Homo sapiens: one gene and its partners. The protein of the gene in region 3 purifies or fractionates together with the protein of the main gene of each other region. This does not show direct contact. Each region holds a gene or a part of one and is shown on either strand. Other genes may lie near its edges. The genes, in order: L1CAM, B3GLCT, CTSE and MTMR9.

Region 1 (8,186 bases), on a different chromosome or scaffold from region 3:
GGTGATCACTGAGGTAAAGCGACAGGATGGTGAGGGGGCTTTGCCACCTGCCAGCCGCTCTCCTGGAAGACTTGGGTTGAGAGGAGGGTCCCCATTAAGGGTGGTGGGGGTGTGCGCTGGGGGCCCTGCTGGGTGCCTTCTGCCCCTGCGAGGTCTCCTGTTCGCTTGTGCAGGTGACGTACTGGAGGGAGGGCAGTCAGAGGAAGCACAGCAAGAGACATATCCACAAAGACCATGTGGTGGTGCCCGCCAACACCACCAGTGTCATCCTCAGTGGCTTGCGGCCCTATAGCTCCTACCACCTGGAGGTGCAGGCCTTTAACGGGCGAGGATCGGGGCCCGCCAGCGAGTTCACCTTCAGCACCCCAGAGGGAGGTGAGTCCTGCACCCCACGCCTCATCCCCTGCCCTCCTCCCCAGACCTGGGCGAGGACCTACCTGCCACTCGGTTCTGTGCCCTGCAGTGCCTGGCCACCCCGAGGCGTTGCACCTGGAGTGCCAGTCGAACACCAGCCTGCTGCTGCGCTGGCAGCCCCCACTCAGCCACAACGGCGTGCTCACCGGCTACGTGCTCTCCTACCACCCCCGTGCGTGCGCCGCCCCAGCAGGGAAGGGAGGTGGAGGGGCCACGGGGAGGGGGCAGAGCTGCAGCCACAGCCAACCCCTGTCTGTCCCCACAGTGGATGAGGGGGGCAAGGGGCAACTGTCCTTCAACCTTCGGGACCCCGAACTTCGGACACACAACCTGACCGATCTCAGCCCCCACCTGCGGTACCGCTTCCAGCTTCAGGCCACCACCAAAGAGGGCCCTGGTGAAGCCATCGTACGGGAAGGAGGCACTATGGCCTTGTCTGGTAAGCTGGAGGAATGACCTGCCAACAGGGAGGCCCCGGCCAGCCGGGTCCAGGAGGGAGGGCCTTAGACTTCCTGGCAGCTGCCACACTCTCCTCGTTCCCCTGCATCCCCCCAGGGATCTCAGATTTTGGCAACATCTCAGCCACAGCGGGTGAAAACTACAGTGTCGTCTCCTGGGTCCCCAAGGAGGGCCAGTGCAACTTCAGGTTCCATATCTTGTTCAAAGCCTTGGGAGGTAAGCGTGAAAGGGGGCCTTGGGGCGTGGTGGGGAAGGGGGCTCTGGGCCAGAGGGGTTGCCTGGCACTCCGACTCACCCCTGCTGCCACCCTCTCTCCCTGGCAGAAGAGAAGGGTGGGGCTTCCCTTTCGCCACAGTATGTCAGCTACAACCAGAGCTCCTACACGCAGTGGGACCTGCAGCCTGACACTGACTACGAGATCCACTTGTTTAAGGAGAGGATGTTCCGGCACCAAATGGCTGTGAAGACCAATGGCACAGGTGAGGCGCCGGGGGCCCGCCATCACCTGCCAGGGAAGCATGGGGGCTGCACAATTCATGTCCTTCTGTCCCCTGAATGGCCACTACTGCCCAGGCTCCCTCCACGGCTCCTGTCTGCTTCTCCTCCCAGAATCTGGGTGTCCCCGAATCAGCCCCCTTTCATACCCTTTCCGCAGATGCCCTTTTCCCTGTCCCTGTCACTCCTTAGCCCCCCAGAGGGCCCCAACTTTAAGAGCATACTTCAGGGCCTCAGGTCGGGTTCTGGCTTGGGCGGCAGCACGGGGGGCTGGTGTCTCACCCTCAGGCCGCGTGAGGCTCCCTCCTGCTGGCTTCGCCACTGAGGGCTGGTTCATCGGCTTTGTGAGTGCCATCATCCTCCTGCTCCTCGTCCTGCTCATCCTCTGCTTCATCAAGCGCAGCAAGGGCGGCAAATACTCAGGTAGCCTCTGAGCCCCACGTGACGGGGGTGGAGCCGAGGGCAGAGAGGAGCACCTCGCCCCTTCCACCCTTCTGCAAGGCCTCCTGGATTCCCCGAGCTCCCCACAAGATGACAGGCGCATGGTGGGGGCAGGCAGGGGGATCATCCTCCCAGGCCGGGGTTGGGGCAACAGGCAAGTGGTGGCTGGACCGCAGGGGGTGAGCGGTTTCTTTCAAGGCCTCTTGCCTCTGGGCGCTGTTGAGACAGAGTGCTGGGGGTGCGGGGCGTAGAGGGGCCTGGAGCCCCGGGTCAGGCTGGGGCGGGAGAAGAAGCTGTCCCTCTCTGTGTCTCCAGTGAAGGATAAGGAGGACACCCAGGTGGACTCTGAGGCCCGACCGATGAAAGATGAGACCTTCGGCGAGTACAGGTGAGCCGGGGCAGGAGTGGGTGCTGGCACTCAGCTCCACCCTGGCCTTCACATCTCACCCCCTCTCTCTCTTCTCTGTGCTGCCGGGTGACTTCAGGTCCCTGGAGAGGTAAGGCAGGGGCGGTGGGGAGGGGCCAACAGCAAGGTCTCCCTATAGACAATGTGCGCCTGGTGTGCCATTGTCCCCTGGCTGCCGGGGCTCTGACAGGACTCTCACTTCCCAGCCCCCAGGCCCGGCAGCTCCTCATTTCAGGGAGAGGCCAACACGCCCCAGCCCCTCCTCTCCACACAGATACCTTCACTGCTCCCCTCTCCCCAAGGGAGGCCCCAGACAGCTTCCCAGACAGGAACCAGGCCCCATAATCCCCTGGCCGAGCGCACATTTTCTCCCTCACAGTCCCCAGGATCTGGGGAATGCCCAAAGATGACAGCTCCAGACCTGCCTGCCAGGGTGGCCAGAGCTGCTCTTTCTGAGCGCATTCTAAACAAATGGAAGGCAGGCGGGCGTCTGCCTCACCCCCAGCCAGGCTCCTGCAGGGGCTCGGCAGTGCTCTCACTCGCACCTGCCCTGTGCCTCTGCAGTGACAACGAGGAGAAGGCCTTTGGCAGCAGCCAGCCATCGCTCAACGGGGACATCAAGCCCCTGGGCAGTGACGACAGCCTGGCCGATTATGGGGGCAGCGTGGATGTTCAGTTCAACGAGGATGGTTCGTTCATTGGCCAGTACAGTGGCAAGAAGGAGAAGGAGGCGGCAGGGGGCAATGACAGCTCAGGGGCCACTTCCCCCATCAACCCTGCCGTGGCCCTAGAATAGTGGAGTCCAGGACAGGAGATGCTGTGCCCCTGGCCTTGGGATCCAGGCCCCTCCCTCTCCAGCAGGCCCATGGGAGGCTGGAGTTGGGGCAGAGGAGAACTTGCTGCCTCGGATCCCCTTCCTACCACCCGGTCCCCACTTTATTGCCAAAACCCAGCTGCACCCCTTCCTGGGCACACGCTGCTCTGCCCCAGCTTGGGCAGATCTCCCACATGCCAGGGGCCTTTGGGTGCTGTTTTGCCAGCCCATTTGGGCAGAGAGGCTGTGGTTTGGGGGAGAAGAAGTAGGGGTGGCCCGAAAGGGTCTCCGAAATGCTGTCTTTCTTGCTCCCTGACTGGGGGCAGACATGGTGGGGTCTCCTCAGGACCAGGGTTGGCACCTTCCCCCTCCCCCAGCCACTCCCCAGCCAGCCTGGCTGGGACTGGGAACAGAACTCGGTGTCCCCACCATCTGCTGTCTTTTCTTTGCCATCTCTGCTCCAACCGGGATGGGAGCCGGGCAAACTGGCCGCGGGGGCAGGGGAGGCCATCTGGAGAGCCCAGAGTCCCCCCACTCCCAGCATCGCACTCTGGCAGCACCGCCTCTTCCCGCCGCCCAGCCCACCCCATGGCCGGCTTTCAGGAGCTCCATACACACGCTGCCTTCGGTACCCACCACACAACATCCAAGTGGCCTCCGTCACTACCTGGCTGCGGGGCGGGCACACCTCCTCCCACTGCCCACTGGCCGGCCTCTTCCAGCCGCCCCCACCCCCCAGGACCCCTTAGCAGCCCTGCCCTCCCTATCGTCTGAACAGTTGTCTTCCTCAGCCTCCTCCCGCCCCCACCTTGGGAATGTAAATACACCGTGACTTTGAAAGTTTGTACCCCTGTCCTTCCCTTTACGCCACTAGTGTGTAGGCAGATGTCTGAGTCCCTAGGTGGTTTCTAGGATTGATAGCAATTAGCTTTGATGAACCCATCCCAGGAAAAATAAAAACAGACAAAAAAAAAGGAAAGATTGGTTCTCCCAGCACTGCTCAGCAGCCACAGCCTCCCTGTATGCCTGTGCTTGGTCTACTGATAAGCCCTCTACAAAAAAACAAAAGTATATATATATATGTACATAATATCAGAATTATAACAGGCAAATAAAACCTGAAAATCAAGAGCACCTTTTGTTATTTCGCGGAACACTTACTTCCCCTGTCCACGTCACACTGTGGGAGGTGCTAGGAGCGACCTGCCAGGCGGGCCCGGGTGTGGCCCAGCCACACAGTCCTGATGCTTCCCTGCCCCTTCCCAGAGCCCGGGCCTTCCACCCACCCTGCCAGGCCTGGCTGTTGGCTGCCTTGGGTGTTGCTGTCACATTGTTGCTGGGGCTCAGGATCCTCGCCTCTGCTGGCCTCCTGAGACCAAGCTTAGCTGTCACCATGGCCGGGCCCTTCACTGCTCAAACATGAGAGTAGAGTGTGGCCAGCGGCAGGAGCCTCTTCCCCTGTCTCAAGGGACACAGCTCCATGGCTCAGTGGAAGACTCATGATGTGCCCCGGTGGCATCGTTCTCTCTGGGGTACCCAGCCCTCTAAACCAGTACAAAGCACCTTATTTATTTATTTTTTGAGACAGGGTCTCACTCTGTCTCCCAGGCTGAAGTGCAGTGGCGTGATCAGGAGCAGGTGAGACCATCTACAGCCATAGATGGCAGGACAGGGCTTACCTCTGTAGCTGGGGATTGGTTGCCTGGAAGCACAAAGGCATTCTCTGTGGTGATGCAAATGTTCTTTAGTTTGGTCCGAGTCGTGGTTGCATGTGTGGATAGGCAGGTAAAAAAATCAGGTTGCAGCGACCTGAGATTGTACCAGTGCACTCCAGCCTGGGCGACAGAGCGAGACAAAGAAAGAAAAAGAAAGAAAGAAAGAAAGAGAGAGAGAGAGAGAGAGAGAGAGAGAGAGAGGGAGGGAGGGAGGGAGGGAAAGAGAGAAAGAAAGAAAGAGAGAGAGAGACAGAGAGAGAGAGGGAGGGAGGGAGGGAAAGAGAAAGAAAGAAAGAAGAAAGAAAGAGAAAGACAAAGCAAGAAAGCAAGCAAGAAAGAAAGAAAGGAAGGGAGGGAGGGAGAGAAAGAAAAGGAAAGAAAGAGAAAGAAAGAAAGAAAAAAGAAAGAAAGAAAGAAAGAAAGAAAGAAAGAAAGAAAGAAAGAAAGAAAGAAAGAAAGAAAACCCAGCACAGGTGAGCCCTCCACTTCCCGGGCTCAAGAAATCCTCTGGCTTCAGCCTCTCAAGTAGCTAGGACCACTGGAGCACGCCACCACGCCTGGCTAATCTTTAAATTATTGTTGTAGAGATGGAGTCTCCCTATGTTGCTCAGGCTGGTTTCGAACTCCTGGGCTCAAGCAATTCTCCCACCTCGGCCTCCCGATAGTGCTGGCATTACAGGCGTGAGCCACCACACCCAGCCCAGGACTAAGCACCTTAGATTTATGACCACAAGCCTCAAGTGGACCCAGGCAGAGCCAGCCTTCCTTGGGAATTCTAGAGTTTCCTCCCTGGTTCTCCAAGGCCTCACACCTTCCCCTCAGCCCCCAGGCCCTGCACTTTCAAGGTGAGAACTTTGTTTCATGTTTCACTGAGCAAGTTGAGAGCATCTGACGAGAATTTCTTTCCTTGAGTTCCCATCATCAAATCTGTCCCCTCCCCAGCCCTAGCCCCCTCAGGTGAACACTTCCCACCATGTGCAGTGGTCTCTGCCACCCCTGAGACCCCCTCTCTCCTCCTGTTTTCTGCACCTGTAATTTTTCTCTCTCCCTGTGGGGTCAGGCCCAGCAGCATACCAACATGCCCTTGGAGCTTCTATCACCGGAAGCTCCCGCTCCTGCCTCCGCATGCCCCCTGGCTCTTGCCCCGTTTCACTGCTCCTGTTTACAGCAAAACCCCTCAAGACTCCTCTACACTCATTGTCCCCCTTGATCCCCACCTGTAACAGCGTCCACTTATTGCCCTCCAATATCTGTTTTTCTGTTCTTCCATAACACTAGATTTGTGGCTTGGGGACATGGCAGCTCAGCTGAAGACCCATTTCCCAGCCTCTATGCACCCAGTAGGGTGGTGGGGCATGAGTGCACCCATACCTGCAGGGCAAACCTGTGCTGGCGCCTTTCTTCCTTCCTTCCTTCCCTTCCTTCCTTCCTTCCCTTCCTTCCTTCCTTCCTTCCTTCCTTCCTTCCTTCCTTTCTTTCTTTCTTTCTTTTTTTCTTTTTTGAGATGGAGTCTCGCTCGATCACCCAGGCTAGAGTGCAGTGGCATGATCTTGGCTCACGGCACCCTCTGCCTCCCAGGTTCAAGTGATTCTCCTGCCTCAGCCTCCAGAGTAGCTGGGACCACAGGCGCCCGCCACCACACCCAGCTTATTTTTGTATTTTTAGTAGAGACAGGGTTTTGCCACGTTGGCCAGGCTGGTCTCGAACTACTGATCTCAGGTGATCTGCCCGCCTTGGCATCCGAGACTGCTGGGATTACAGGCGTGAGCCACCACGCATGGCCTTGTGCCAGCCACTTTCTGTCTCCTTACAGCTGAAAGGCAAATGTGATCTGTGATCATGGGGAGAGCTACCTTGTCGCACCAAAGGGAAGTCGCACGTTGAGGATGGCGGAACAGCAACAAAGGCAGCCCGAGGGCCTGAGCACCTGGAGCTGCCACATCGGCCCTGGGCTGCTTTCCTGGGTTTTTAAAAAATTAAGGCATTTTGCTTTTTAGAGCAATTTTAGGTTTGCAGAAAAATTGAGCGGAAAGTAAGGAGTTCCCACAGACCCCGTCACTCCCCTTACGCCTCCCCATGATGAACATTTCGAGTCAGTGTAGTACGTTTGTTACAATTGGTGAGCCACAGTGAGAAGCTCGCATGAACTAAAGCCCATAGCTGACATCGGGGTTCACTCTGGTGTTGTCCATTTATGGGTTTGGACAAAGGTATAATGACATGGATCCACCCTTACAGTATCATACAGAGTAACTCCACTGCCCTAAAAATCCGTGAAACAAGTCCTTATTGAGGATTACTGTGCAGAAAATCAAGTGCACGCCTGGTTTTTTCACCTGCCTATCCACACATGCAGCCACAACTTGGACCAACTAAAGAACATTTGCATCACCACAGAGAATGCTTTTGTGCCTCCAGGCAGCCAATCCCTGGCTGCAGATCTAAGCCCTGTCCTGCCGTCTATGGCTGTAGATGGTCTCGCCTGCTCCTGACGGGTATGGAAATGGAAGCACACGCTCTGGAGCCCTTTGTGCCGGCTTCTTTCTGGAATCACTTCCATGAGACTCATCCAGGTTGACGTCTGTGTCCCTTCTTCCCTCTGTGATGCTGACTAGTAGCCATTGTATGCACGCATGCACCGCGACTCACTTACCCATTCCCCCGTTGATGGACGTGTGGGTTGTTTCCAATGGTAGCCATCATGGATAAAGTGGGCATATGCAGTCCTTTCTCTGAGATCCGTGCCCTAGAAGGAGCAGTGCTGGCTTGTGGAGTGGGCGTGCCACCCCCTTTGCTGTCCTCTGCTTGGTGATGCTCCTGCTTTACCAGCGCCTCCCTCCTAGGCTCTGCTAGCTGGGGGCGTTTAAGGGAGCCCACAAGACTGGAGGAGGAAGAAGGGACCTGCTCCTTCCTGGGCGCACCATCTAACAAGGCTTCTTCACCCTTGCAGCAAGTGCTTCATTTCCGTGGCACTGCCTGAAGCCAATTTTCAGATCTCTCAACACTTGCAAGACCAGCTTCATTGCATCCCACCTCTGAGACACCACCACCGGACACCCAGTGCCCTATGCTCCAAAATCTGAGTACTAGGCCATCCCCTGAGCTCAGAGACCCCAGCATCAGCCAGACCCCTGCTCCTTAGAGGTCTGGATCCCAGCCCCACAAGTCCCTCTACTGAGCTCACTCCTCCACAACTAGCTAGGCCACGCCCCCACCTCAGACCTCAGAGACCCAGCTTCAGCTCTGTGGGCCTCTCTCTAACCAACTTCCTTCCTTCCTTCCTTCCCTCCCTTTCTTCCCCTTCCTTTGTTCCTTCCTTCCTTCCTTTCTTCCCTTCCTTCCTTTTCTTCTTTCTTTCTCTTTCTTTCTTTTTCTTTCTTTCTGTTTTCTTTCTTCTTTCTTTTTTCTTCTTTCTTTCTCTTTTCTTCTTCCTTTCTCTCTC
Region 2 (8,186 bases), on a different chromosome or scaffold from region 3:
GTTAAAATAAAATTTTTATTTATCATAAATTTAACCTAAATTTAATATCCTTTTACTTTTTTCATAATATGGAAGGGTTTTGTGGGATTATTTTGACAAATACCTTCTTTAAATAGGTGTTGGGGAAATGAACTATACCGCTTTTTGTTTTGTTTCTTTTACAGCAAGCAGGAACTGTTTGAATTGATTTAATTGATCTTGAAGCTACACTTGGAGTAGTGATTGTTTTCACAATATTAATGTTAAGGATGGTGTTGCTGGTACTTTTTCTTTGAAACACATTTTTCAGGTCACAGTGAAGCAGTAAAATTAGGGACACTCCCTGTTGTATTTTTTATATTCTACAGAAATGAAAAAAAAAATAGTTTGTTAATTTTGATTTAGTAATTTTGAATAATCTAGTTTACTGCTTTCTTATTTTGCATAAGTTTGAGATACTCTTTTTAGATATTCATGAAATCCTTTTCTGTTTGAATTTTGAGTCAAAAGTCTTTAAAAATTACAAAATCTTAAAAGCCTATTAGGAGCATTAGAAACAAACCTTCCAAAGCCAGATGCATTGATTTACTGCTGTTAATTTGAATCTGGGATCATTAAAGCATGAGGCCTAAAATGTATCATGAAGTTTTCATATTTGGGTTTCTGTGGTAAGCCGTTTTTCAACTTGGATATGTTTGTTTGAAAAGATAGTCTAAGGCAACAGGATTTCAGTGACTTTGAAGTCCATTTTGCATGACTTCATGTAGCCTGCCAAGCCACCACTGGGCTCTGCCCCTCATTTTAGAAGCCTAGTCCAGCCATCAGTTGGCCCAAAGAGTTATCCAGTAATACCAGTTACAAGGATAACATCACACTAACTGCTTCTAACTGCTAATATTTCTTACATTTTCTGGTGTGTTTTTCACATATGTTCTATTACCTAGTTTCATGTTGACACTTCCTCGTGATATGATAATTATTGTTATTCACTTGTTGTGGAAAAAGCTGAGTATGGAATGATACACAACTGGCTCAGTTTCTTGTATCCTATTGAGTAGCAGAGCCAAAGACTTGGGTTTTCTGGCTCCTAAGTCCCACATTTTTTTCTACCACAGCACAGCTATACTGTAATCTCCTTGGATGTATTACAAACTCCATACTTGATAAATAGTCTTTGCTATTCATGTTGATGTCCTGCTATGCTCAAGGTCAGTTTTGACTTGGCCAGAAGCTGTGAAAGTAGGCTTTCCATTTTTAGTAGCAATGGGGATGGCAAGGAATTGAAACCCACACAGGATCTAAAATACAAATCGAGCTGAGAATTTAGACTGCCACTCCTATCTAAGCATATCACTGCTATAGTCAAGCAGAATACATGGTCTGGGGTGTTGGATTTTTTTTTCATTTTCTTTTCCCTGTGCACTCTATTAGTGGGGGAAACCAGCCCCCAATATTCAACGTGAGTCCTTTTCTATTTTCCCTAAGTGTTGGCCAGTCTGAGAAATAAAGGGAAGGAGTACAAAAGAGAGAAATTTTAAAGCTGGGTGTCCGGGGGAGACATCACATGTTGGCAGGTTCTGTGATGCCCCCTGAGCCGTAAAACCAGCAAGTTTTTATTAGTGATTTTCAAAAGGGGAGGGAGTGTACGAATAGGGTGTGGGTCACAGAGATCACTTGCTTCACAAGGTAATAAAATAGCACAAGGCAAATGGAGGCAGGGCGAGATCACAGGACCAGGGCGAAATTAAAATTGCTAATGAAGTTTCAGGCACACATTGTCATTGATAATATCTTATCAGGGGACAGGGTTTGAGAGCAGACAACCAGTCTGACCAAAATTTATTACGCAGGAATTTCCTCATACTAATAAACCTGGGAGCGCTACGGGAGACTGGGGCTTATTTCATCCCTTATCAACGACCATAAAAGACAGACATTTCCAAAGCGGCCATTTCAGAGACCGTCCCTTGGGAACGCATTCTCTTTCTCAGGGATGTTCCTTGCTAAGAAAAAGAATTCAGCAATATTTCTCCTATTTGCTTTTGAGAGAAGTGAAATATGGCTCTGTTCTGCCCAGCCTACAGGCAGACAGACTTTAAGGGTATCTCCCTTGTTCCCTGAATATCGCTGTTATCCTGTTCTTTTTTCAAGGTGCCCAGATTTCATATTGTTTAAACAATTTGTGCAGTTAACGCAATCATCACAGGGTCCTGAGGTGACATTTCATCCTCAGCTTATGAAGATGACGGGATTAAGAGATTAAAGTAAAGACAGGCATAGGAAATCACAAGAGTATTGATTGGGGAAGTGATAAGTGTCCATGAAATCTTTACAATTTATGTTCAGAGATTGCAGTAAAGACAGGCATAAGAAATTATAAAAGTTTTAATTTGGGGAACTAATAAATGTCCATGAAATCTTTACAATTTATGTTCTCCTGCCATGGCTTCAGCCGGTCCCTCCGTTTGGGGTCCCTGACTTCCCGCAACACTCTGTGGTAGAAATACTTCAGTAACAAAGGCCAAATGATGAAGGAAAAAAATCTAGAGAAACTGTACTTGTGTTTGCCAAGTTGAGAGTGGGGTGTACTGTTAATTGTGGGCACAGTGTCCCCTGGCACTGGGTGGTGATGGCCCCCACTCCTGCTTCATTATATGTTGGTTACCTTCTGGGATGAGAAGGAGAGATGGAACATGTTCTGCTCAAGGCCGTAGTCACAGCAAGGGAAAATATAGATTGCATTTATTTTTTATACTCTCATGGAAGAATTGATAATAAAACCAAGTTTCACAATGAAAAGAAATATTTTAAATATTGTACTTTCTTGGCTTAACAATAACACATTTATGTAATTGCTTTTGTCTGGATTCTGACTTAAGTGAAACAGCATTCTTAGAACACAACAAGCAAAAATATACTCTGTCTTTTGGCTCAAGGAAGTAATACATATTGACATCATTGAAACAGCAGCACCCTCTGAGAGGCAAGCATTTAGTAGGATTTTAAAGAAACTTGAGAACTGTTACATAAGGTGATGAATTGGGCATAGCATGTAAAATTATATTTAAGCAAGGAAATGATCTCTGGTGTTTTAATATTCAACTTGATTGCTTCCTCTTGGGTTCTGTGTTTCCCACTGTGTGACCTGAGCTGTCAGAAAACCTTAAGAATTTTCTTTGCATCATTTTTCCATGCAGTTTGTGTACATGTCTCATGTACCTCGTGGCAGCCACTGGTTTTGTTCATCAAATGGTGGGTTGTGGGATGCTCTCCTGCAGTCTCCCTCTAATTAAAGAGGTTAAATTGCCGTTTGCTCAGCCTTTAGTTCCTTTCCACAGCTTCCTAGGCTCTTAAAAATTAGCACTATATTCCTTTCAGATTAAAAAAAAACAAAAACAAAAACCTGTTTGCTGTCTTTACTGCTGTGGTCTTGTCTAGAGGCAAATCTGAACAAACTGATTGAAAGGGGTGTTTGGTGGCTGGTGTTCTCTTTGACTAAAGAGGCTTACATGTACTGTGGTACAGTCTGCTTACTTAAAAGGTGAGGCTTGAATTAAAATACAGCCAGATAGAAGGCCAGACTCTAATCAAATGAGGTGATTAGATCAATGAATGAAGAGAGGAGAGGAGTCAGGTGTTGCCTTTCCCTGGCTGTTGAATAGCTGATGTTCCAGATTGCCCTACAGTGTTGTGTTAGGGCATCCAGGAGGGATACTTTTCAGGCTTAGGTACACCTCAGTCTTTAAAATGAGGAATTAGGACACATTCATGTGTGTGTCCCTAATCTGCTCCTGAGAAGAGAAGTGCAATCAGGGTCTTATTTTGTGACCACTGACTTGCACACTGAGACAAAAGGGCCATCTGCAAGCTGAAAATAGTGGATTCCTTAAAATAAAAACTATTCACATTTGATGGTGTGGTAGTTTTAATAAAATGTTCAAGTGTCAAGTTCATTTTCATTTATAATCTGAGACAGTTTTATAAGTCACCTCCCTGGGGGTAAAAATGCATGTTCTGTCCTCATAGTGAGACACATCTTCTGCTTAGAGTCTAGAAAGCTCTAAGAAAGATTTATGCCATCTGTGCAGCTGGCATTTTTATAGTAAAATTTTTTTTACTTTGCTCCAAGTTTAAGTTATCTCATGACAAACTTTCTTGAAAGAGGCATTCACTATTATTATAGGAAGTATACTTCTTTATTGAAAAGGAGATAATGTATCAGGTAACTTATTAAAGTATTTTCTCAAAGTTTAGTATCTTTAGGAATACAGTGCCTCAATACAATATAAAATATTTTGTAAATAATAGAATGAATTCATTTTAGAATTTAAATGATGCTAATAAAATAGACCATTATTCTAAAAGTTTAACTAATTTAGAATCAACCCTGGTTGAAAATAAAGCCTTAAGCTGTTTTTTTGGAAGACTTTAAATCCTTTATGGCTAAGAGATGACAGACAGGGCCGAGTGCGGTGGCTCATGCCTGTAATCCCAGCACTTTGGGAGGCCGAGGCGGGCGGATCACGAGGTCAGGAAATCAAGACCATCCTGGCTAACACGGTGAAACCCTGTCTCTACTAAAAAATACAAAAAAAATTAGCCGGGCGTGGTGGCGGGCGCCTGTAGTCCCAGCTACTCAGGAGGCTGAAGCAGGAGCATGGTGTGAACCCAGGAGGCAGAGCTTGCAGTGAGCTGAGATCACACCACTGCACTCCAGCCTGGGCAACAGAGCGAGAGAGTGAGACTCTGTCTCAAAAAAAAAAAAAAAAATGACAGATGCATGGAGGTTATATTGACAAGGGGAGAGATGTACAAACTGTTGAATGCTTTAGGTATTGTAGAATCATAATATCTTAGTATATCTAAATGGTTGGCTTGTTTTAAAATGATTAATCAAAGGCTGAATTGCCTTTATGAATAAAACCTTCCTTTAACAAGCTTCCACAAATAATCCTAGGCCTTTTATTGAAATGCCTACAAAATTCAGTCCTCATTCAACTGTTTATTGAGTGTCTACTATGTCCTAGGCACTGTGCCAGGTGTTGGGAAATGAGTCATACACACACTAATTCTTACCTTTAGTGTAATTTCTATTTTACCTGTTTCAAAGTAAAAGAGAAAGCAAAAGTGCTAACTCACCCTTGATTTTGATTTTAATTTTATTTAACTCAGTTAATTGAGAAGAAACACCCGTGTTCTTTAATAAACCTATTAGAGCGAAAAAGGACTGAAAGCCTAAAGGCTGAGGAAATTGAAAGCAAAATTTGCACAGCCTGCAGGACCCTTGCTGGGGACTGAGGAAAGTTCTTGACCTTTCCTCACAGCTTCTTCCAGCATTATGCAATGGAGGATATTTTACCCAACAGTGTGAACTTTTAGTGGCTGCAAGCTGCAGGGAGCCCTTTCTGGGGTAAGTTCTCTTGCTTATTGTATGCAAAGCAAACTGCCACAGCAGTGCCAAGGTTAACATTTTTGTTGTGCTGAAATTTGGAAGTAGAACAGAGTGAAATTTTTTAACATTTCTTTTTTCCTTTTTTTGTCCGCCAGTAGCCCTATTATTTAGTACATCTTTGACCATTTTGACATGTAGAAACCTTTAGAACTATCTGCTTTTTTATGGTTGCAGAAAAATTATATTTTAATATATGAAATTAATATTTAACTGGTAATTTGGTAATTTTAGCAGATGTGCAGAACTCAGTTTTTTTAAAAAAAAAGCCAGTGAAAGAGATTATAAAATGATGCACTTCTGTATTTTCTATATAAGGGCTGTCTGAGCTGGACTCAGAATTTGCTTACTTATTAGCTAAACACTTAAATTTTACATTGGAACATCAGTTTTTGTATATATTTCTATTAGAGTTGGGAACAGGGGAAAGATACATGATCTGATAAAGTTTCTCAAAAGTTAAGTGAAGATTTGGTTCATCAGAGTTTTGACAGGATATAAAATCTAAATGTTTTTTCTATTGAAAAAACAAGAAACCACTTTTTAAAATTCAGAGATGCATAGGCAGTAATTTGTTTTTTAAGTATAGAAGAAAAGAATTACTTGGTCAGGTGAATTAATATCAAGTAGTGGTAAGTCTATATGTCAGGTATGCAGACAGAGCTATCTTTGAGCCTCCAAAGCCAAAATACAGAAAACCAGGACAGCTTTCTGTTGTGTTTATTGTGTTAAAACAATTTAGCTGCTAATGATAGAGTTTTAAAGCCTGCAGTAGTTTTGAATGTTAGTACTTCCACATTTTTCAAAAGTACAACATCGTAATATCAGTCATCATATGCAGTGATTCTCATTTGGCAAGGTCATGCCCTTTGTAGGGTTGGGTAGTTCTGTTAGAATCTTTGGGTGGGGACATGCATAGTTTGCAAAGGTCTTCTCATGCTCCACGGTAAGAGGGATGGATTTTCTCTTACCGTGCTCCGTGGTAAAAGAAAAATTAGTTAACATTAATGTAAACACAATAGCATAATCAAACCAGAAAATTTATCATTATATGGAAGTAAGTGCATTCATCACCAGGAATGAGAAATGCTTTACTCTAGAGAATGTTGAAAATGCTTCAAGAAGAGGGTTTTAGTCAACAACGTTGGCATTTCTCAGGGTTGGAAGCAAGCAACTCTTGGAACACCTGAAGAACAACCAGTAATGTTTCTCTTCCTTTGTAGATGATTATACTGCCATTTTGAATTTTTAAGCTTCCTTGTGTAACTGTGCCAGTGATTGTCACCTCTGTAATTTTTTCAGTACCTATTGTTAAGCAGACTTGGGAGAGCCAGGCAAGTCTCATTGAATACTATAGTGACTATACTGAAAATTCCATTCCTACTGTGGATTTGGGAATTCCTAATACAGATAGAGGTGAGTCATAATTCTTACTACTCTCCTTATTAAACATTGCCATTCTGTAAATACAGTAAATTAGGTTAGGATAAAAATGAAATGTTTTATAAGTGCTATAATTTTTGCCTCATATTAGTTTTTTCCCTTCTCTCAGATACTGATTGGTTCTTTCAAACTAAGGGCTTTATAGTACGAAGTGTTGCAAGTTTTTAGTAGCTTATATCCTATAATTGAGCACATGATAGTTACAGCAGAATTTAACAATAGATTTTTCATACCTTCATAATTCTTTGCGACCATGATGGGGTGTTTATTATATTCCCACATAAAGCTTCTCTCCTTGTCAGTCTTATAGTCTAGTTCACATATTATATTACCCGTGAGTACCACCTAATCACATTCTACACTAGTTATATGTAGAATAAACTGTATTCTATATGTTAAGATTTTAATTAGTAAATTGTTGGAAATAAACCTGCTTTTCTCTTCAAATTGCAGGCTTTCTAATTAAAAACACTTTTTAGGACATACAGAGTGGAATGGTAGACATTGGAGACTCCAAAAGGTGGGAGAGTAGAAGAGGGGCGAGGGATGAGAAATTACCCACTGAGTACGATAGACACTCTTCGGGTGATGGCTTCACCAAAAGCCCAGACTTCACCACTGTACAATATGTCGATGTTACAAAACTGCACTTGTACCTCTTAAATCTATAAAAATTTTAAAAAATTGTGTCAAAAAATGGAAGTGAAAATTTGGCCACCTCATCTTCAGATATTCTTTATTCATCTTAAGTTTTATCCAGTGTTCCTGCCACCCTTTGTTCTTTAGTTTTTTTGTTCCCCATGCCCTTTTATGAGTAAAAAAAAAAAAAAAAAAAAAAAAAAGTAGCAAACTGATTATGTTCTATACAGTAATTTATCTTATTTTATGTTAGTGTCACTCATAATTCTTTCATTAATATAGTACAATGCAGAATCAGATATGCCATCTCTGTAGTTACCAATTCTTCTAACAAGGTTAAGTGTATTACTGAGTCTGTCTGTTGCTGTTTGATTTGGAAAAACGATTTTAGATTGGGTTTAATAATCATGTATTTACTTATACCTTATTTGATGTCTTCATTACTAGTCTGGTCTTATTGTCTATATTTATATTTGTTCTAAAAGGGATTTGAGGTGGCTTTGAAACACGTATTGTAATGGTTAAAAATACACAGAGATCAAGAGTAAAGAAAATAAAGGTCAAATTGAGTGGTTTAATAGTCATTAATATAAGTTAATATTTGTGCTCCACTGTGTCACCAAATAATTAAAATGAGGGGCATATTCCTGTTTATCAATTTGACTACTCTTCCCAA
Region 3 (8,982 bases):
TAGCTGATAGGATTGGTGAGAGATTTGAATGAACTAATGCTTGTAAGTCCCTTAGCTCAGAGCCTAGCACAGAGCTAATGCTTCCAAAGTATTCCTTGATATTGTCACCCAATCAAGCCTCTTCATTTTATAGGCAACAAAACTAGATTCAGAGAGAAGGGATTTATCTGCGATCATATGGCCAGTTAGTGGCAGAGCCAGGACTGGAGCCAGGCATCTCATCTCATCTCATCTCACCTGGTACAGACATCTTTCTACTGTACCACACACAGCATCGTGGATTTTCCCTCATTTCCTAACTTTAAGCAAAAGAGGTTGGGCCATTTCCCAGTTGGCCAGGTTTGTGCTGAACCAGCAATGTGTTGCAAGAGTCAGGCATCCTGGAGTGCATCCTGCGGTGCCGGCTCCCCTGTGAGCAGGAGCCAGCTCATGTCTGACAGTAACAGACTCTGTTCTAGGAGCTATCGAGCCCTGATAAAACTTATCCACAGAGCACTGAGCAACTGTCCTCTTATATTGTTATTATTTTATTTTGAGACATCTGTTGCCCTCTCAGGCTGGAGGGTAGTGGAGCAATCTGGGCTCACTGCAACCTCTGCCTCCCAGGTTCAAGAGATTCTCCCGCTTCAGCCTCCTGAGTAGCTGGGATTACAGGCACGTGCCACCATGCCTGGCTAATATTTGTATTTTTAGTAGAGACAAGGTTTCACTATGTTGGCCAGGCTGGTCTTGAACTCCTGACCTCAAGTGATCAGCCCACCTCAGCCTCCCAAATGTCCTCTTATTATTAATTTACTTTCTGGAAGCTGAAGCTCCAGAAAGAAGTTCACTAGATAGTGACACCACCACCAGCTTTCAAATGTTCTGGGAACAAAGTCTCTACATCCAGCCAGCCTCCAATCCACGTTCTTGAGCGTCTCTTTCTCTCCCCCCACCCCTCTCTCTCTCTCTCCAAAGACCCTCTCCTAATGCAGAGAGACCGGATCATTGACTATACTATGTGTCACTTTCCCCCACATCATACTATTTCACCTCAAATGCTCTTCTCTCTCCCTCTGCTCAAAGGACACACACAGACAACCACACATATGCCTAAGGTCTTTTGTTCTTTGGAAAGTGTTCAAATTGTCCACAGCAATATTTGGTTCTTGCTGGAAAAGGCCAGTAATCTACAGCCAGGGTAGGTTCAGTTCCTGGTGTCTCTGGAGAGGACAGATCCCATTAGCTCTGACAAACATCCCCAGTGTTCCTGCTCTTAACCTTTGTCAAATTTTCCAAAATCCAGCTAGACCCAGGGGCTCCTTGCAGGCAGTCGAGGCTGTGTCTGCTCCACTCAGTAGTCAGGTGGCCCACAGCTGCAAGGACCAGTCAGCTTTTTCTCAAGCCTGGGCCAGGCAAACTCTCTACATTTAGTAAACAGGGGCAAGAGGGATGCAGGGAGAGGTCTAAAAGATGGAAAAGGAGGGAGGGGTTATGGTTAGCCCCCTTTCAACAGTTCAGTGATAATGATGCTATAATTCTGTAGCAGAAAGTTTGCCCGCTTAGAAGTCAGGAGGGCTGAGTCCTAATCCTAGATCAGCCACTAAATGAACCATGTGCTCTTGGGCTGATCACTTTGCCTCTCTGCCTCAGTTTTCTCATTCTGCTATACAAGTGGGTTTGTCTTGAGAGTCTGTAAGAACCCTTCCAGCACTTCTGAAACACTGAAGTTTTTAGTGACAATCTTTAGTTCACATGACATGTTACAGTTTTTCAAGAACTTCCACATGCAAGCATCATTTGGAGCTACTGTGGGTTTGGTTCCAGACTACTGCAATAAAGTGAAAATTGCAATAAAGTCAATCACACAAGTTTTTTGGTTTCAAAATGCATGCAAAAGTTGTGTTTACCCTGTACTGTAGTCTATTAAGTGTGCAATAGCATTATGTCTAAAAACATCTTAATTAAAACATGCTTTATTGCTAAAAATGTTAACAATCATCTGAGCCTTCAGGGAGTCATAACCTTTTTGCTGGCGGAGGTCTTGCCTGGACATTAATGGCTGCTGACTGATCAAGGTGGTAGTTGCTCCAGGTTTGGGGTGGCCATGACAATTTCTTTCTTTCTTTCTTTCTTTTTTTTGAGATGGAGTTTCACTCTTGTTGCCCAGGCTGGAGTGCAGTGGCAGGATCTCGGCTCTCTGCAACCTCCGCCTCCCAGGTTCAATTAATACTCCTGCCTCAGCCTCCTGAGTAGCTGGCATTACAGGCATGCACCACCACACCCAGGTGTTTTGTATTTTTAGTAGAGATGGGGTTTCTCCATGTTGGTCAGGCTGGTCTCAAACTCCCGACCTCAGGTGATCTGCCCGCCTCGGCCTCCCAAAATACTGGGATTACAGGCACGAGCCACAGCGCCCAGTTCTTAAACTAAGAAAACAATGAAGTTTGCCACATAGATTGACTCTTCCTTTCTTGAAGATTTCCCTGTAGCATATGATGCTGTTTGATAGCATTTTACTCACAGTAGAACTTCTTTCAAAACTGGAGTAATCTTCTCAAACCCTACTACTGCTATCAACCAAGTTAATGCAATATTCATAATCTTTTGTTGGCATTTCAACAGTGTTCACAGCATCTTCACCAGGAATACATTCCATCTCAAGAAACCACATCCTTTACTCATCCATAAGAAGCAACTTCTCATCCATCCAAGTTTGATCATGAGGTTGCAGCAATTCAGTCACACCTTCAGGCTCCACTTCTAGTTCTCTTGCTATTCCCACCACATCTACAGTTACTTTCTCCACTGAAGTCTTGAACCCCTTAAAGTTATCCATGAGGATTGGAATCAACTTCTTCCAAACTCCTTTTAATTTTATAGTTTGATCTCCCATGAATCATGAATAATCATAATGGCATCTAGAATGGTAAATCCTTTCCGGAAGATTTCCATTTACTTTGCCCAGATCCATCAGAATCACTATCTATGGTGGCTATAGCTTTACAAAATGCATTTCTTAAATAATGAGACTTGAAAGTCAAAATTATTCCTTGATCCAGGGGCTGCAGAATGAATATTGGGTTAGCAGGCATAAAAACATTTATCTCCTTATAAATCTCCATCAGAGCTCTTTGGCAATGAGTTGCATTGTCAATGAGCAGTAAAATTTTGAAAAGAATTTTTTTTTTTCTGAGCAGTAGGTCTCAACAGCAAGCTTAAAATATCCAGTAAACCATGCTGTAAACCAATGTACTGTCATCCAGGGCTATGTTGTTCCACTGATACAGCACAAACAAACTCTATTTAGCATAGTTTTTTAGGGCCCTAGGATTTTCAGAATGGGCAAATGAGCATTGGCTTCAACTTAAAGTCACCAGCTGCATTATCCCCTAACAAAAGATTCAGCCTGTTCTTTGAAGATTTGAATCCAGGCATTGACTTCTCTCTAGTATGAAAGTCCTAGATGGTATCTTCTTCCAGTATGAGGCTATTTTGTCTATACTAAAAATCTGTTGTTCATTGTAGCCACCTTCATCAATGATCTTAGCTAGATCTTCTGGATAACTTGCTGCAGCTTCTGCTTTGGGACTTTCTGCTTCACCTTGCAGAAATCTCCATAGGCTTCACGTTTTCTTCTGCAGCTTCCTCACCTCTCTCTGCCTTCATAGAACTGAAGAGTGTTAGGGCCTTGCTCTGGATTTGGCTTTGACTTAAGGGAGTGTTGTCACTGCTTTGATCTTCTATCCAGACCAATAACACTTTCTCCATATCAGCAAGAAAACTATTTTGCTTTCTTATCATTTGTGTGTTCCCTGTAATATCACCTTCAATTTCCCTTAAGAACTTTTTCTTTGCATTCATGACTTGGGTAACTGTTTGGTGTAAGAGGTCTAGCTTTCAGCCCTTCTTGGCTTTCAACATGGCTTCCTCACTAGGCTTAATAATTTCTAGCTTTGAATTTAAAATGAGGAACATGCAAATCTTCCTCTCACTTAAACACTTAGAGGTCACTGTAGAATTATTAATTGGCCTAATTTCAATATTGTTGTGTCTCAGGCAACAGGAAGGCCCGAGGGGGAGAGAAAGAGAGGGAGAGAGAGAGATGGGGGAATGACCAGTTAGTAGAGCAATGGAGCAATCAGAACACACAATTACACTTATTAAATTCTCTGTCTTACACGGGTGCAGTTTGTGGTACCCCAAAACAATTACAACAGTAACATCAAAGATCACTGAGTACAGATCACCAAAACAGATAAAATAATCATGAAAAACTTTGAAATATTGCAAGAATTACCAAAATGTGGCACAGAGACACAAAATGAACACACAGTATTGGAAAAATGGTGCTGATAGACTTGCTTGACACAGGTTTGCCACAAACCTTCAATTAAAAAAAAAAAGCAGTATCTGCAAAGTGCAGTAAAGCAGAGTGCAGTACAACAAGTATATCTGTACCTTATTTTGTTTGTTTAATCCTCCTTAAAAACCCATTGATGTAGGTAAGGTATTTGGCAGATGACAAAACTAAGGTATGTGGTGAATAAGCAGTTACGGGCAAAACATGGCAGAGTTTACTGCCAAAATGAATGATCTCCACTTCTAGCCACTTCTGACTCAAGCTGCCCTTCTAGGTTTAGACCACTCTCCCCAGTGAAAGATCAACAAGACGGGCTCCTGGGAAATGCCAAAGAGGCTTTGTTGCCTTGGGTTCAGGGGTCAAAGGTCTAGGCTGTTCCTTAAGTCTTTTTGATGTCTTTTTTTAACATTTTTGGACCCAAGGGTGGGTTTGGCTTAGCTCCATACTCCACGTTTGCTTGCCATTTGAACTTCAGAGATGAAAGGCAGATCCCATAGCACTTAAGAGATTTTCCAGAACACTAGCTGGTCAGGGCAGAGCTAAACCTAAACGCAGGCCATCTACTTCCTACTGCTGAGCTAGTGCCCTCTGGAAGCATTGGCATATGGTGGTGGCCTCTGCTGCCCTGGCTAACTTGAGTCAGGGTCAGGGTCTTCCTACCTGTAACCCCTTCATCCCCACCCCAGGCACTGAAGCCCCACCATCTGTTTATGAGGCGGGTGGCCACAGAGATAGGCTGATGGTGAGGGGGTTTCACACACTGCGGTAACTAAGGCCTGAGCCCCACCCACTCTCCACCCCTGCGCTTAGTCCCACTTGACAGATAGAAGATCCTATTGTCCCTGAGCACTGTTAAGGGCTGAACTTTGTCCTCCAAAATCCATGTTGATGTCCTAACACCTAGTACCTCAGAACGTGACTGTATTTGGAGATAGGGTCTTTAAAGAGGTATTAAGGGTAAACGCAGTCATTAGGGTGGGCCCTACTCCAATATGACTAGCGTCCTTATAAGAAGAGGAAATGTGGATGTGGACACAGCCACACGCTGAGGGAAGACCCATGTGAAGACACAGAGAGAAGGCAGCCATCTGCAAGCCAAGGAGAGAGGCCTCCGAAGCAACCAAGTCTGCCAACACCTTGATCTTGGACTTCCAGCCTCCAGAATAGTGAGAAAATAAATTTCTGTTGTTTAAGCCCCCTGTACTTTGTCATGGCCGCTTTAGTAGACTCATGCGGGCACTTGCTGTAGACGCTGACCCCCTTGACCCTCCCTCGCTGCCCCTGCATTCTCCTCCACACACCCCTGAGCCCCAGCCCCAGATTCATCAAGTCCTTAGAGTCAGGAGAGTGGGCTCCATAAATCTGCAGCTACATTTTCCCATTTCAGGGCCTTTGAGGAGTGCTGGTTTGTGCTTCAAAGTGGGCCAGGGAAGGATAAACTGCCTTTGGAGCATTTGAGAGATTGAGGAGAGAACAGGAATCACCCAGAAAACAGACTGACGAATATTTTGAGTTAGAATCCTGCCACCCATGACAAGTCAGCTCCCACCCCTCCAGAGTCTCCAGCTAGAGCACTTGCAGTAAGAGTTCAGTGGGCCTTTCCAGGCAGCCAGGCATGTGCTGCCCTCCGGATTCATTAACAGGGTTTCTTGGGGTCAGAGGAGGTGCCAAAGCCCTGAGAGAAGCCAAGCCCCAGAGGACTCCCAAGTTCTCCCCGCAGACTCATATTCCTCTTGTAGGTGGGAAAGGGACGGAGAGGTGCAGGGGGAACGCCCTGTTCCACATGCCGTATTTACTCTGGGCATGGCTAATGACTCCAGGGCCTTATCATTCGGCCCTCAGACTGGGCTGGGCAGGTCTGAGAGTTAGGGAAAGTCCGTTCCCACTGCCCTCGGGGAGAGAAGAAAGGAGGGGGCAAGGGAGAAGCTGCTGGTCGGACTCACAATGAAAACGCTCCTTCTTTTGCTGCTGGTGCTCCTGGAGCTGGGAGAGGCCCAAGGATCCCTTCACAGGTGAGAAGACGTCCCCGCACTGTGTTCAGCTGGGTAGTCCCATGCCCTGCAACTCAGGGCTGCTCTGGGGTAGGAAAGCTGATGGGGAGGTGAAGAGGAGGAGAAGCTGAGGGCTTGCGTCAATGCATGGAAGAGACTCATCCAGTGACCGCCTGTGTATGGCCTTAATCTCCAGTCCTCAACAAGTCATCCTCCTGCCTCCACCTCCACGGAGGTGCCTTCCCAAGTCCCAGGGGTCTTCTTGTGTTGCAAAAGAGCAGGAACCTGCAGTTGTGGTTTGTAGCTCAAAGCGCCCCAGGACTTCCCCAGGGGACTGACCATCACTGTCCCCAAGAGTTTTTCTGTCCCTTTAAATCAGCCCTTCGTGATGTTCATGTAAAACTGTAGACCGCCCCACATCTCCCATTTTCCTAGATCTCAAAGACCTCAGCTCCAGGAGGGGAGCCATTTCCACTCTAAGATTCTAAGACTCTATAGGGCAGAGATGAGGCCGGGCAGGCTGAGTGGCAGAGAGGACGCTGATCCCACCTGTATCCTGCGTGCTGTCTTGCAGATCCCCCCCTCCCACCCCATCTTCTCTAGTTGGCCCCTGAGAAAATGGGACGAGAATGGGGGGAAGAGGGAGGCAGAAGTACATCTCCTGCTTACATGGGGGTTTGTCTCCAGGGTGCCCCTCAGGAGGCATCCGTCCCTCAAGAAGAAGCTGCGGGCACGGAGCCAGCTCTCTGAGTTCTGGAAATCCCATAATTTGGACATGATCCAGTTCACCGAGTCCTGCTCAATGGACCAGAGTGCCAAGGAACCCCTCATCAACTACTTGGATGTGAGGCCTCCTGGGGTCAGGGCTGGGGAGAGGTGGGAGCGGGAGGAAGGCCCAGCATTAGGGCATGGCCAGTGCCACATCAGTAGCACCGAAGGCCATTGTGGATTTCTTCACTTGGATGATGATCCATGGGGACTGATTCCCTGGGTCCCCATGGAGTTGGCTAAGCAGGCCCCCATGTACCCAAATGTCAGAGTTCTCTGCAGAAGGAAAGGGCTGGGAGTGAAAGCATCATCCCACACTGAAGGCCCCTGCTTCTGCTCTCAGCTGGGCAGCTTACTGGCTGTGTACCCTTAGGCAAGTTACTTAACCTCTCCCAGCCCCAGTTCCCTGGTCTGTAAAACAGATGGTTCTTCCTCCACTGCCTCTCCTACAATGTATTTATAAGAATCAGGTTAGTGCAAGTAAAATCAAATGAAGTAGCCAGAGGCTTGGTTTGATTTCCTCCTTCATGGCCATTTCTCTGCTCCTTTTACCTTTTATTTTCCAGCGTTGCCACTTCCTAGGCTCTGTAAACTCCAGTCTGTATTACCCCAGGCTCTGGCCCCTGGGAGCTTTCCCCTGGCTTCCTGGTGAGCACCCTTGTCCCTCCCCACCACCCACACCCTCTTTCCTTCTCACTCTTCCTTGCAGATGGAATACTTCGGCACTATCTCCATTGGCTCCCCACCACAGAACTTCACTGTCATCTTCGACACTGGCTCCTCCAACCTCTGGGTCCCCTCTGTGTACTGCACTAGCCCAGCCTGCAGTAAGTGGGGCCAGGAGCACCAGCAGAGAATGTCTGGGGGCTAGTCCTGGGAGGCCAAGCCTGGTACTCTGGGGAAGGGGGGCTTAGGTTCCAGAAACTGGCCATCCCTGCCACACCAGCTTCCACTCTCCATCTTTGAGTCAGCCGTGGAACTGCTTATAGCAGAGATAGAGCAAAGCCAAGGAAGAACTAAAATGTGGCTGCTGTCCAAGAGAGTAACTTTCATACTGATCAGAATTAATAGAAAGAAAGCCATTGAAAAGAGAAATCTTTGACATAATGACTCACTTCCTTTGGAACACCCAAAGGAATGTAGGGGAAGTTTAATTTAATTGGTTATTTCTGAGCAGGGAGGTGAGTCGGGTTCTAGTGTAGATAGTCTGCTTGTTTCAAGGAGGCTTGGTAGCCTTATCTCCTGGTGCACACAGGTGGGGCTGGTGGGGCACAATGGCATGGGTGGGTCCATTTGTCCAGAGGTAACTCAGAAGTTTCAGTGAGGATTGGAAAAGAAGAGCTACAGAAAGATGTCTTGTTCGATACAGGACAAGTCCCAGAGACAGAATGTCTCTGGAAACCCCAAGGCTAGAGATGTCCATCGGTTGGGAGAAAAGTTGGGAGTAATTTCCTGGGGCAATTGTTTATCCCTGAGTTTCTTTTGAAGCCAACCTCTGACCCACAATGGGTGGCAGGGACTGTGGCTGGCGCCTGATAAATGACACTTATCTTGGTGTGCCTCATGAGGTCATTGTGGACAATCAGGTTTGCTCAGGGATAGCTATTTGGTCCCCAGTTAGGCCACATCTGTAGCTAGAGGGAAATGTAGTTGTTCATTAGGGAGGGGCATCACCAGGCTTCTAGGGGCCCCCACTCAGTGTTGAGAGCTGAGGGAAGAGACCCTGCCGCTGTGGGGCTGGGTGGCATTAGGGCAGGGATGCAGCCAGTGAGCCGATGGCATAAGCAAGAGCAGTGCACTTCTTTCCAGAGACGCACAGCAGGTTCCAGCCTTCCCAGTCCAGCACATACAGCCAGCCAGGTCAATCTTTCTCCATTCAGT
Region 4 (4,173 bases), on a different chromosome or scaffold from region 3:
TAATATATAATATATAACATTATATATTTTATTATATATGTTATATATTATATTATAATATATAACATATATAATACGTATTATATATAACATAATATGTATTATATATTATATAATATGTGTTATATATCATACGTATTATATACTATGTATTATATATGTATTATATAATATATATTACATATAATACATAGTATATAATACGTATGATATATAATATATATTATATAATACGTATTATATAATATATATTATATTTCACCTATATAATATATATAATTATTCACCTAATTATATTAAATAATTATTCACCTAAATATTCACCTAATTATTCAGCGAATAGGTGAATAATTATTTATTCACCTATTCACCTAATACATGTAATTATTATATATAATATATTAATAATTATAATATATAATAATAATAATTATATTATAATAATTATATATTATAATATAGTATAATATAGCATATAATATATATTATAATATGTATATATAATATATATACATAAATATATAATATATTTATATATATATAATATATATATAATGATGTCAGGTAATAAGGGCCAGGAAGGAAAGTAACGGAAGATGAGAGGATAAAGAGCACTGGGAGGCAGTTTCCTTAGAAAGGATTTCAGAGAAGGCAGGTGACATCTGACTACAGACCGGAATGAAATGAGGAAGCTAGAACTGTGAGTGTCTGGGGGAAGAGCATTGCAGCCAGAGGGAACAGCGAATACAAAGACTTGAGATGGGGAACATGCTTGGCATGTGCAGAGAAGAGCGAAGAGGCCAGTGTGGCTGCAGGGCAGGGAACAGAGAGTACAGGAAGTTGATGGTAGAGACTGGCTGGAGGGATAAGCAGTGGTCAGACCGTGGAGGGCCTGCAGGCCACAGTAATGGTTTTCATGGGAGCCCTTGGAGAGGTGAAAGCTAGGAAGCAGCAGCTGATAGATGTTTCAGAAGACAATTCTGGCTGCTGGCAGAAAATAAACTGTAGGGGGGCAAGACTGGAAGCAGCAGGCCCAGCTTGGAGAGTAGAGTAGTTCACATAAAAGATGATGGTAGGCCGGGCACGGTGGCTCACGCCTGTAATCCCAGCACTCTGGGAGGCCGAGGCGGGCAGATCACCTGAGGTCAGGAGTTCGACACAGCCTGGCCAGTATGGTGAAACCTCATCTCTACTGAAAATACAAAAAATAGCTGGGTTTGGTGGTGCATGTCTCTGATCCCAGCTACTCAGGAGGCTGAGGCAGGAGAATCACTTCACCCTGGGAGGCCGAGGTTGCAGTAAACTGAGATTGCACCACTGAACTCCACCCTGGGGTGACAGAGTGAGTCTCTGTCTCAAAACAAACAAACAAACAAACAAAAAACAGTAGTGTAGTCACAAGGAATCTGATTTGGGATGTGTTTTTGAAAGTGGAGCTGCCTTGCCTTGCTGGTGAATTGTAAATGAGGTGAGAAAGTCATTAAGGGTAACTCCTTCAGTTCTGCCTCTTACTAGACAAGTGCCTTTGGGCAAACTACTTAACCTCGTAGAAACTTAAGTTTAAATAATGCTTCACAAGTCTGTGGAATACTTTCATATATATCGCTTACATCATTTTATTTGATCCTTTCAACATGCAAGGTTGTATACAAGTTTTACAGTTATACCTGGTTTTTTTTTTAATGGACCTCAGAAAATTGAGTTACTACTACTCAGTTGATGACTCATCATTTTCATGATTGATTCCTTAAAAGGTTTCCTCTGTTGTTGATTTTCTTCCTCCCTAATTTTCACTCCCGTTTCCTGCCTCATCCACAATCCCTGTAGGCAACCACGTTAGTTGTTGCTATAAAATAGATAGCACTATTGTGTATGGGTGTGCGCACACATGCATGTGTGAGTTTAATTTGCCTAACTGGGATTATGTTGTAGATCTTGTTCTGCTTCTTAATATGGTGACACAATACTGTTTCAAGATCTCTTCATATTGCTGTGTGTACAACCATTTCACTGCTTCTGACAGCATAGGATTCCAAAGTATCTAAAAGAGCTTCCTTAACAGACCTTTTAGGTAACTTCCAACTCCCTGCTATCACAAACAACTCTGGTAAACATACTCATTCATGTCCCTTTATATAGTCTTGTGCCATAATTGCTCTGAGACTGCCCCTAGGATGGGATGGCGCCATAAAGTAGGTGCGTATCTCATTTCACAAACTAATTGCTTTCCAGGATGACAATTGCACATTGCCTTCCCATGATGGTGCAGGAGAGGGTACCTCGTCTCCACTTTCTTACCAACATTTGGTATTGTCTTTCTAATTTTTCCAGTCTGAAGATTGTGAAATAGTTATTGCTTTGTTTTAATTTGAATTTCATTAATTATTAGTGTTTAATTATCTTTGTATATGCTTGTGAGCAGTATACTTAAAATTTTTTTTTTTCCTTTTTGTGAATTGCCTAATTTCTGTGGTCTACTTTTAAACATTGGGTTTATTGTCCTTCTCATGTTGATTTGCATGGGTACCTTGTATACTCTGTGGGTGTTCATTCTCCATTTAGGCATTACGAATGTTTTCTAGTGTGTCACCCATCTGTTGTTTTTTTCTGTGGTGCCCTTTGTTGAACAGAAATCTTTACTTTTAATGCAGAACTTGCCAATGTTTTGCTTTATGGTGTGTGGCTTGTCTTAAGAACTCCTTCCCTGTCCCCAAATCACCAGGATGTTCTCCTACATTTTCTTCCATAATAGCTTCATAGTTTTACTGTTCATTTTTAGGTCTTTAATTTGGATTCTATCTTTGTTTCAAGTGTGATAAGAACCTATTTTTCTCCATAGAGCAAGCCAGTTTTCTTAATCCCATCACGTGACAACCCAACCTTGGCTGGTTTATGTCAAGTTATCCTATATATACGGGTCTGTTTCTGAGCTCTCTGTCATAATCCATTGGTTCATTAATCTGCTCTTTTGTCATCATCATATTCTCTTTCCTTCTGTGGCTTTGTGATGTGTCCAAAAATCGGATAGTGCTAGTTGCCCCGCTTTCGTTTTTTTTTTTTTTTTTTAAAGTTGACAACTATGTTTCGACCTTTATGTTTCCATGCAATTTTGGAAAACTTGCTATGTTCATGGGATTTTTAAAAGTCTTTAATAATAATTGAAGACTCAAAGGCAGTTGCAAAAATTGCACATAGAGGTTTTAGAATCGTCCACTCAGCTTCCCCTAATGTTGACCTGTTTTATAACTGTAGTGTAATCAAAATGAGGACAAAATTAGGACATTGACATTGGTGCAGTACTATTAACTAGACCACAGACTTTATACAATTTTCATAGGATTTTAAAAAAATGAATTGTTTTGGATTTATAGATTAATTGGAGTCAAATTGACATCTTGACATCCATGAACAATGTTACATTATTTATTCAGATCTTCCTTTAAGTCCCTTAGTGGAACTTTAAGATGGTGTATATGCTAGGTGCTGTACTAGGAGCTGAGGATATAGAAATTAATCAAACATGCCTTCTACCTGAAAAAACTAAGACCATTATAAGAAATAAACATATAAACTAGAAAGTTTAATAAAGTATTTTAAATGCTGTGATAGGGATGTATACAGGGCATGGATGGGACAATAAGGACAAAATGATAAAATAGAACTGAATCTGACAATTGATGTGAATCATAGGAGTTTTGTGGAGCTCTTATGTTTTTAAAACATATTTTTCTTGGCCCACTGTTCTATAAGTAACTGACTAGAAACATTGAATAAATGAATGGAGAATACCTTAATAGTTTATAGCATATTTATTCTGACATAAAGTAACAATTATTTTTAACTCCTCTAGTCATTCATTATACTTTATAGCAACTACATAAAACCTGCCAGACTAACAAAACAAAATTCACCTTACAAAATGAGTTAGTATGACAAGCATAGATGATATGGAAATTTACAAGAGAATAACCGTATGTCTTGTACATTTTTTTTGTTTTTTTACTGACAGTTTGGTTGCTGTGTGTCTTTCACTTCCAGCTGAAGCAGAATGACAGTGATTTTTAAAACAGTTTTATTGAGGTACAGTCGACGTATTACACACTATATATATTTGAAGTGTAAACTTTGATGTGTGTTGATATATGTACACACCCTGAAACTGTCACCATAAGT

The links.
Region 1: the proteins of CTSE (region 3) and L1CAM purify together in Homo sapiens (affinity purification with mass spectrometry; one large-scale study listed by BioGRID and IntAct). This does not show direct contact.
Region 2: the proteins of CTSE (region 3) and B3GLCT purify together in Homo sapiens (affinity purification with mass spectrometry; 2 studies listed by BioGRID and IntAct, with this or other methods). This does not show direct contact.
Region 4: the proteins of CTSE (region 3) and MTMR9 purify together in Homo sapiens (affinity purification with mass spectrometry; one large-scale study listed by BioGRID and IntAct). This does not show direct contact.

Annotation. Positions count from the first base shown.
Region 1 is NC_000023.11:153,857,488-153,865,673, reverse strand, and holds the end of L1CAM (neural cell adhesion molecule L1 isoform 1 precursor), read left to right. Parts: intron 1-173; coding exon 174-375; intron 376-463; coding exon 464-586; intron 587-679; coding exon 680-853; intron 854-969; coding exon 970-1,089; intron 1,090-1,196; coding exon 1,197-1,352; intron 1,353-1,656; coding exon 1,657-1,791; intron 1,792-2,124; coding exon 2,125-2,197; intron 2,198-2,294; coding exon 2,295-2,306; intron 2,307-2,779; coding exon 2,780-3,011; 3' UTR 3,012-4,158; downstream 4,159-8,186. UniProt on the Homo sapiens protein: Neural cell adhesion molecule involved in the dynamics of cell adhesion and in the generation of transmembrane signals at tyrosine kinase receptors.
Region 2 is NC_000013.11:31,277,918-31,286,103, forward strand, and holds part of B3GLCT (beta-1,3-glucosyltransferase precursor), read left to right. Parts: intron 1-5,303; coding exon of another isoform or gene 5,304-5,350; exon of another isoform or gene 5,351-5,389; intron 5,390-6,730; coding exon 6,731-6,844; intron 6,845-8,186. UniProt on the Homo sapiens protein: O-glucosyltransferase that transfers glucose toward fucose with a beta-1,3 linkage. Specifically glucosylates O-linked fucosylglycan on TSP type-1 domains of proteins, thereby contributing to elongation of O-fucosylglycan.
Region 3 is NC_000001.11:206,021,096-206,030,077, reverse strand, and holds the start of CTSE (cathepsin E isoform a preproprotein), read left to right. Parts: upstream 1-6,182; 5' UTR 6,183-6,286; coding exon 6,287-6,354; intron 6,355-7,020; coding exon 7,021-7,177; intron 7,178-7,810; coding exon 7,811-7,928; intron 7,929-8,910; coding exon 8,911-8,982. UniProt on the Homo sapiens protein: May have a role in immune function. Probably involved in the processing of antigenic peptides during MHC class II-mediated antigen presentation.
Region 4 is NC_000008.11:11,287,816-11,291,988, forward strand, and holds part of MTMR9 (myotubularin-related protein 9), read left to right. Parts: intron 1-4,173. UniProt on the Homo sapiens protein: Acts as an adapter for myotubularin-related phosphatases. Increases lipid phosphatase MTMR6 catalytic activity, specifically towards phosphatidylinositol 3,5-bisphosphate and MTMR6 binding affinity for phosphorylated phosphatidylinositols.